Linked DNA regions of Homo sapiens. The protein of the gene in region 1 interacts with the protein of each later gene in a pairwise test. Each region holds a gene or a part of one and is shown on either strand. Other genes may lie near its edges.

The links.
Region 2: the proteins of CYTIP (region 1) and ARX interact in a two-hybrid assay, tested with the Homo sapiens proteins (one large-scale study listed by BioGRID and IntAct).

What each region holds. Positions count from the first base shown.
Region 1 is NC_000002.12:157,426,815-157,430,620, reverse strand, and holds part of CYTIP (cytohesin-interacting protein), read left to right. Parts: coding exon 1-62; intron 63-3,200; coding exon 3,201-3,270; intron 3,271-3,806. UniProt on the Homo sapiens protein: By its binding to cytohesin-1 (CYTH1), it modifies activation of ARFs by CYTH1 and its precise function may be to sequester CYTH1 in the cytoplasm.
Region 2 is NC_000023.11:25,013,166-25,017,631, forward strand, and holds the start of ARX (homeobox protein ARX), read right to left. Parts: upstream 2,801-4,466; 5' UTR 2,573-2,800; coding exon 2,377-2,572; intron 634-2,376; coding exon 1-633. UniProt on the Homo sapiens protein: Transcription factor. Binds to specific sequence motif 5'-TAATTA-3' in regulatory elements of target genes, such as histone demethylase KDM5C. Positively modulates transcription of KDM5C.

The DNA.
Region 1 (3,806 bases):
ACAGAAGGTTTTACCTACAAACAAGTCGTTGACCTGATCAGATCGTCCGGAAACCTGCTAACGTAACTATCTGTCTAGTTCCCGTGGGGCTTCAAAATGTTATGTTTTCTCATAAAGCCTGATGAGTGAATAAATAGGCCTTTTGTTCAGCATTACAAGACGGAGTGAGGCAGTGCACCGGAGCTTTAGAGTGGGGTACAAACATTATCAGTTCCTTTTGTTTCTCAAGATTCCTCACACTTGAACATACTGTCAACATCTGAAGTCAGAGGACATCAATAGCCCAAACGTCTGTGTGGGAAGGATGGCCTTTACAAATGTATTTTTTTAATGTCAAATTCAATTAAACTGGCACACATTCTCTTTAAACTGGGAAGAACTGATCCAATTTTCATGGTTGATATAATCCTGTAGCTAAAACAAATCAAAGGTCAGAAGGGCTGAGTTTTTCCTCTTATGTGACAAGCCACCTGTTTTTCTCTTCTAGTGTTCCATTTGGAAGGAAGAATAGTCTGTTCAACCCTCCCCACCCTGAAACACACATACTCACACCACATGTTCCAAATGTTCCAAACTTCTTTTTTTTTTTTTTTTTTTTGAGACGGAGTCTCGCTCTGTCGCCCTGGATGGAGTGCAGTGGCGCGATCTTGGCTCACTGCAAGCTCTGCCTCCCAGGTTCACGCCATTCTCCTGCCTCAGCCTCCCTAGTAGCTGGGACTACAGGCGCCCACCACCATGCCCGGCTAATTTTTTGTATTTTTAGTAGAGACGGGGTTTCATCGTGTTAGCCAGGATGGTCTCAATCTCCTGACCTCATGATCCACCCGCCTCCGCCTCCCAAAGTGCTGGGATTACAGGCATGAGCCACCGCCCCTGGCCCCAAACTTCTTAATAGAACACTGGCTTTCCCAATTAGAGGTTTGACTGATTTTTCTACCATAACAATACTAGCACCTAATAAAATCTTATTAGGATAGTTAAATGATGAAATTCGCTCATTCATTAAAATCATATTTATTGAGCAAATACTATGTTTCCAGCTCTGTGATAGGCTCAGGAGAGACGAAGATAAAGACTCTCTTAGTACGTTAATAGTTATGGAAGGAAATGGCTCAGAAAAGCCTGAAATTTAAGTAATGTGTATATTTCAGTTATTGATAACTACTATGAGAAAAGTGCAAAACAGCAATGGCCTGTCATGCTAGGTAAGAAGGCTGCTAGTTTGGCTTAGATGTGTAAAGTGGTCTTTTCTAGGGAGGCGATATTTGAGTTGAGATCTAAATGAAGAGAAGGATGGTCAAATGAACTCCTCGTAAGAGCACTTCAGGCAAAGAGAGAGGTCTCTGAGTGCTCACAATGGGCTTGGCATGTACAAGGGAAAGAGAAAAAGACAGTATAATTGGTATTTGATGGATTAGAGAGGGTATAATAAGAAATGAAGCCAGAGAGTTGGCCTGGGGGCAGACCATGGATCTCTTTGGACATGCCAACAAGTTTGGGTTTTATTCTGATTGAGGTGGGTCATATATTGTGTCATTTATTCTTCACAGCCACCCATGAGGTTAATTTTATTCCTATTTATAGATGAAGTGCCTGAAGCTTAGAGGGGGCTTAGTTAAGGTCACATAACTGGTAAGTGATAGGGCTGGGGTTTGACCACCTGCTCTGGATGCCAGGATCTGTCCTTTTCAGCTACAGCTGCTCCTTGGAAGCTGCCAGTAGAAAATCTGCTGGATGCTTTTCAGTGATTCTGGTGTAAAACTTCAAAGGATGCTTTGGGTGTTTGTGAGAGCAGATTTGAAAGATGGTGGTGGTAACAAATTGGGTCCAACTCTATAGGTCCTGTGAGTTCAGGGTAAAGGATGAGGTGCTTTTGCTCTAGAGAACCCTGGATCCAAAGGAGAGGAACCGTGCAGAGTCTGAGGGGAACTGCTGGTAGTTAGAGTCAGAAAGCATGTTCCACATGGGTGAAGAGGGTAGACCACAGGTAAATAGGGGTTGTAGATGGAGGTAACTGTTGGAAATCCGGGAAAATGGGAGACAGTCTGTACAAATACTGAGGAAAATGGCCAAATCAATGGTTGCAGTTTTGCCCATACACATCTATTGCTTCAGCAGGTCAAACTGACATTCAATCCCAATGAAACAGATTCATATGGATTCCCACTATTTCTCAGAGAGTCAAGATCACCTTAAGGAGAAAACAGACAGTATATAGCTTGCTACCACCTGATTATTCCTGGCATGATGCTATTAGAAGTAGAAGACTGATCTCCACATTTAATGCTTTTACCATGCCTTGAAAAATTCCTTGCATCTTTATAGAGAGGTACAGCTTAATTACAAGAAGGAACTTGAACCAACACTTTAAAAATTGGTGTGTGATTCACAAATGAAATTTTTAAATCATATTCAGATTGATGGTTTAGTAGTCAAAATAAAAGCCTTTAACTTGAACACACAGAACAAATCAAATCACTCAGAATAGAACAAGTATTTTATTTTTAGAAATGTGTGTGGTGTGGGAAGAACAGAACACTGGTAAGTTGATAATTCTAGGATTAGAGTTTGTAAACTGAATGTTTTGAGATAAAGAATCATATGAAGGTTATTATGTCATAGTAGTTGTACTTCTGTTTCTTCTAGTACCAAAATTATAAGGAGATTTACAGAGGTAAAGGCTCCTAGAATCCTATGGAGGAAAGGATTTCTCCCTCTTTCAAGAAGTAGCATGTTAATTCCATGGTTGTGAAAGCCCCTAGAGCCTATTATTTCTGTTGTTGTGCCCCTTGTGTTCAGCATGGTTTCTAGAATCTGGTACATAGTAGATGCCCAATAAATATTTACCAAATGAGTGAGGTCATTCAGCCCATCCCCACAAGAACAGATTCTAGTAGAGAGCAGCCATCATTGTCACATAGTGACTTCTATAAAATAAGCTATAGTTTACAAATTAACTAGGATCCTTTCTTTTAGCCACCTTCTCAAGGGGAGTTTTCCCCCATTTTCTTTCTCTGTTATCAGAAGATTTGGCTTTGGTCCAGCTACTCGAAGTGCCATGAGAACTGTAACATTTGTATTTCGTTTTTAGTATAGTATGTGCTCAAAGTGTAGTACTCTGTAGTATGGTACTTATTTAAACGAATCACTCATGTTACTCACTCCCCACCTTCCTCTTCTTTTTTTTTTCCTTAAAACAGGATAGAGACTCTTAATGGAACAATGATTCTGAAAAGAACGGAGCTTGAAGCAAAGCTGCAGGTTTTAAAGGTAATTTAATTTAATGCAGTGAGGCACATTTTTCATCCTTGAATGTGTGAGTGGTAAAATAAAGATCTATTTGAGGAACTGAGATAGCCCTTGAAAAAGAAATGTCGTGGTGAATCTAAACTGCTGAATTATCAAGAGCCGCACAATTACCTTTGGAGGAATATCAAATTCTGCAAACCAGTGTAAATCACTTTCTTCCTTCCTCCTTCTGTGTGTCTATGAGGCTCAGAAAGGCAACAGGAAGGCATGCCACTTGAAGAACTCTTCATTAGTGCACCTGTGATCTCTATTGATTTACATTTTGTTTGGAATTAAAACAAAAAAGGTCATTATTTTCCCAAGTGTGTTGGAGGGCCTGGGTTTTTCACTTTTTCCGTGTCCTCTTTTGGTGTCCTTCTCTTCTGCCTCATCCTTAAAACGAAAACCTTATCCGTCTAATCCTGTGACTGTCCTTGAATCTGCTTTCATTGGCAAATACACTAGCAAATTCAAAGGAGGAAGAAATTAGCGTCCAAGAGATAGTAAATAATGCAGGA
Region 2 (4,466 bases), on another chromosome or scaffold:
CTGCGGCCACGGCGCCAGTGGCGGCCACAGGACAGCGCCGGGGCTCCTTGAGCAGCGCGCGGGCGTCGTCCTCCAGCAGCTCCTCCTCGTCGTCCTCCAGCAGTTCCTCTTCCTCGTCCTCATCTTCTTCGTCCTCCAGCAGCTCCTCCTCGTCGTCCTCGGTGCCGGTGCCACCACCCGCAGCCGGGGCGCTGCCCGGGCCGCCGGCCACGCCGAGGCGCTCCTCCGGGTGCGTGACGCCCCCCGGGCCGCCCAGCTCGTCCAGCGCGGGCGGCGGCGGCACGAAGGGCGCCCCGTTCTCGCGGTACGACTTGCTGCGGCTGATGCTCACCTGCGGCGCCTGGCTGATCTTGAGCGTGTCCCAGGCCGCGGCGGCCGCGGCCGCGGCTGCCGCGGCGGCCCCTGCGCCGTCCGGCCGTTCCCCGGGCCGCGCGGTTGGCGGTGGCGGCGGAGGGGCCTCCCCGCGTGGACCCGCCGTGGCCGTGGCGGCCGCTGCCGCCGCCGCCGCCGCCGCCGCCGCCGCCGCTGCCGCACCCTGAAGGAGGCGGCCCCCGCCCGGGCCGTACAGGCGCCGCAGCTTGGGCGGCAGGTGCAGCTCGGCCTCGAACGGGGCGCTGCTGCTCTTAGGGGAGCCTGCGGGCAAGGGAGAGCTATCAGCCAGCCGGCCGGCCGGGGAGTCCCAGCCAGGGCTGCTGCCGGGGCCCGCCCGCAGTTGCTCCCCCAGTGCCTAGGCCCAGGCGTGCGGGGACCGCGCACCACCAGACTTCGACGCCTTGGCCTCTTTCTCCACTTTTCTTGCTTTTTCTTTTTCTTTCTTTCTCTCCTTCTCCCTTTCTCTGGGTTCCTTCTTTTTTCCCCTTTCCTCTCCCTTCTTTCCGTTCCCTCTCTCACTCTCCCCCTTTTATTTCCTATCTTCCTTCCCTTATCTATTCCTCTTGCCCCTCTCTCCCTTCCTTTTCTCTCCTTACCTTTTTTCTTTTTCTTTCTCCCCCTCCCTTCTTTTCCTCACCTCTCTTTCTCCTTCTCTCCCCCTTTCTTTCTCTTTTTGCAGGCTTTCTCTCCCCTCTCTCCTTCTTTCTTCTTTATTCCTTTCTCTTTCCCCTTTCCTACTCTCTCATTTTTATTTCCCTTCCCACGTCGGGGCAGAGGAAAATCCGAAAACATTCTACAACTTTAAAAGAAAATCACCACTATCCTGAAAACTTTGCGCATGACCTCTGCCCGCTGCTCCACCATGAGGGCAAGGGTTGGCAAGAGGGGTGCAGCCCTGAAGGCGACCGCTGCGGGGCGGGGTGGGGGAAAGCGGCCCTGTGGCCCCAAGTGCAGGCCGCGCCCCAACAGCCCACAGCGGGAGAGGGTGGGGGGGCTTCTTGCACAAAAAGGCAAAGAAAAATCATCCTGGCAAAAATGTTCTGGGAAAGGTCTGGGGCAGAGAGGGAGTGGGAGTGCAGCAGGCGCAGGCCGCTCCTTCCTTTTGAGGAAGCGCCTGGCATAGGTGCCACTGCAGGCTAAAAAAAGAAAAGAAAAAAGTCAGTTTTATTTAAATGCCCCCTTCTCAACCGTCTGCTCCTGCCATCCAAATTGCGCTATGGCCGGACCGCTGGTTTTTGGATTTTAAAAGAAACCAACAGTTCTTTCCTTTCCCTGCGACACCTCTGCAGCAAGCTCGAGGCGAAACTTGAGGATAACAGGTTCGGGGTAAAAGGACATTTGTTCTGGAATTTTTAATTTCAGAAAAAAATAAAATATTTTAAACAGCTCGTCTATTTTAAAAAATAAAATAGCAGAGAAAAAATTAGCATCCAGAAGTCACACATTTCATACATTTTAAATACATTAAGGAGCATTTGGAGAATCCCAGGAAGATGTTTTCTGCAAAGCTTGGGTTTAAAAGGTCACAAGTAATCTGCAATTAAAAAAATAAAACCAAAACATTGCATATACAGAAATCTTCCAAAGAGGAAAGGCCAAGGCTCACTCAGCCTGGAGACCCCGATTCACCAGCTTTTGGGCTTCTTGTCTTCATCAAGTTGGTGCTACAAGGGTCCACCGGCCATCTACTGTTTCTGACCTGTCGCCGCTCTTCAGAGCACACCCAAGGCCACCAAAAGGGGCATTTAAACAACCTAACGATCAACACCGAAAAGCTAAAGGCTCCCTAAGCGAAAACGGGCCTTTTTCTGGAAGCAGGGAGGGAGGGAGGGAGAGACAGCCCTGGCTAGATGTTTAACGCTCTTTGAGGCAGCAGGCCTCAGAGTTATGCCCTCTCCTTCCTTCCTCTCCAAATTGACAATTCCAGGCCACTGGCCCCCGAACACCAAACATCCAAATCAGGGCCCAATGCCCTTAGTAAGTGCCTGACGGGAGCATCCTTACCTTGCACGGCCTTTTCCGGGTCGGCGCGGCTGGTCAGCGGAGCAGGCAAGCTCTGCGCGGCTCCCAGCAACCGCATTTTGCACGGGCTCCTCCGGCCCAGGATGCTGTCGATGCAGTAGGAGGAGAGCAAAGTTGGAGATTTACTTTTGCACTCGGGCCTCTCGGAGCAGCCCTCCTCCTGGTACTGATTGCTCATGGCTGGGGCTTTTTCCCAGGGCGCAGAGAGCGGATCGCCGGCTGCCTCTCCCGGAGGGTGGGATGGATGGGTGTGTGTTGGGGGTGGGGTTAGATAGCGGGTTATAACGGATATTATTGCGATCTTTGTGCCTTTCTGCCTCCCTTGGTTGCCGGCTGCCGGCTCCCGCCCTGCCCGCGGCCCGAGCTCGCCCTCTCCGCGCTCAGGACAAGCGGTAACAAGTGTAGTGAGCAGCGGGCGCTGAGCTCTGGAGTCTCTCTCCTCCACGTGCTGAGAGGCGCCCTCTGATTGGCTCTCGCCAGAGGCCGGGCTGCGTCGGCCTGTGGGCGCGGCGCAAAGCCCGGACTGGATTCCAGAGGGGCAGGCGGGGGTGGGGGCAGCGGGCACGCACCAGAGCCAATTTTCCTTTTCTTTCTTTCTTTTTTTAAGTTACCAATTTTCTAAGTCCGCTATCCTCTTCCTGCAGCTCCTCCTTTGACCCTTTAGTGTTGGCCGAAGTTCTAGCTTATTGGGATGCCAGGCCTGTGAATGCCATCTGGGTGGCGTGCGCCCCTTCCACCAACCCGAGGACCTCGCTCCCTGGAGGCGAGGCCTCGAGGCTCACGTTCAGACTCACTCGGCACTTTTCAAAGCCGATATTGGGCTCCCAGGACACCGCCTTGACCTCCCTGGCGCTCAATTGCCGTCCTCTCTAGGCCGGACGGGCGTCGGGGGGCCAGGGTGACCGCCCCAAGCAAACATCTGCCGTCTGGGAGTTCGCTTTTCTCTTGCGGCCCAAGGCATTGCGCTGTCTATCTTCACCCTGAGCCCGACTGTGTCTCTCTTGTTTGTAGCGTCCCCCAACCGCTCTCCTCTCCGTTTTAAACTCTGGAATGGGAAAAAGCCTCCTTACAGACAAAGCTCTGCCATAGGCGCGCGGCCTTCCCTAGAGCATTTACTGGGTGGGAAGGGACAGGCGAGTATCAGCAGCGAGGAGGGGCGACTGGGGACGAGTCTGGGGGCCTCCTCTTTCTCCCTGGACTCTCTTCCCTCTTTCCCCCACAAATTCGTATCTGTTAGGCCTTCACCCTGAGGCTGTTCACCTTCCAATCGCAGCTAGGGAGCAGAACCCTCAGGGATCCCTGACCTCTCCAGGGTGGAAGGAACCCAAATTCGGCTGCAGCCAAATCTAAGCGTCTAAAATTCTGAATTCTCATGACCTGGCTCCCTTGAGCAAAGGTGAGAGAGTGAACCTTAGAGAGAGCGCCTTTCTTCCCAAACAGTTTCCAGCGCCGAGAACTAAAACCCAACTCCAACTGATGTTGGGTCGAGCCTGGGCCAGCACGGACGCCTTCCCTGCCTGGGTGCAGGTTCCCAGGGATTTCCAGGGGCCCCAACGCTGGCAGAATTGGGGCGAAGGTGGTGGGTGAGAGAGGGGCCAGGGAGGGGGAATCCACGCCGGGTTTTCCTCTCTCAACTCCCTTCAATGTGTCAAAGAGAAAAGCATTTTACAAAGGATTATACTTGAATCACTTACAGTCAGTATTTAAAAATACAAGGATGCATAACTGGGATTTTTTTTTTTCAGCCATAAACATCTGCATAACTCTTGGATGCTGGTGGGTGGGTAGCAGACAGATCGGGCTGCCTCCGCAGGAAACTTCAAGACAAAACTGGGGGGAGGGGATGAAGGGTTGGGAACAGGCACATTAATAATGCGAATACTAATACTGATACTACTACTACTATTAAAGACAGGACAAAAAGAATTCCTCTGTCCCTCTCTCTCTCTCTCTCTGGCTTTTAGCTTAATTCTCATCCGTTTTTTTCTGCACTTGGATGATAGGGCGGGCTGTGGTGGGGAGCGGAGGAGAACCCGAGCCATCGCTGACATTTGATTTTCCTTTAAGCCCTC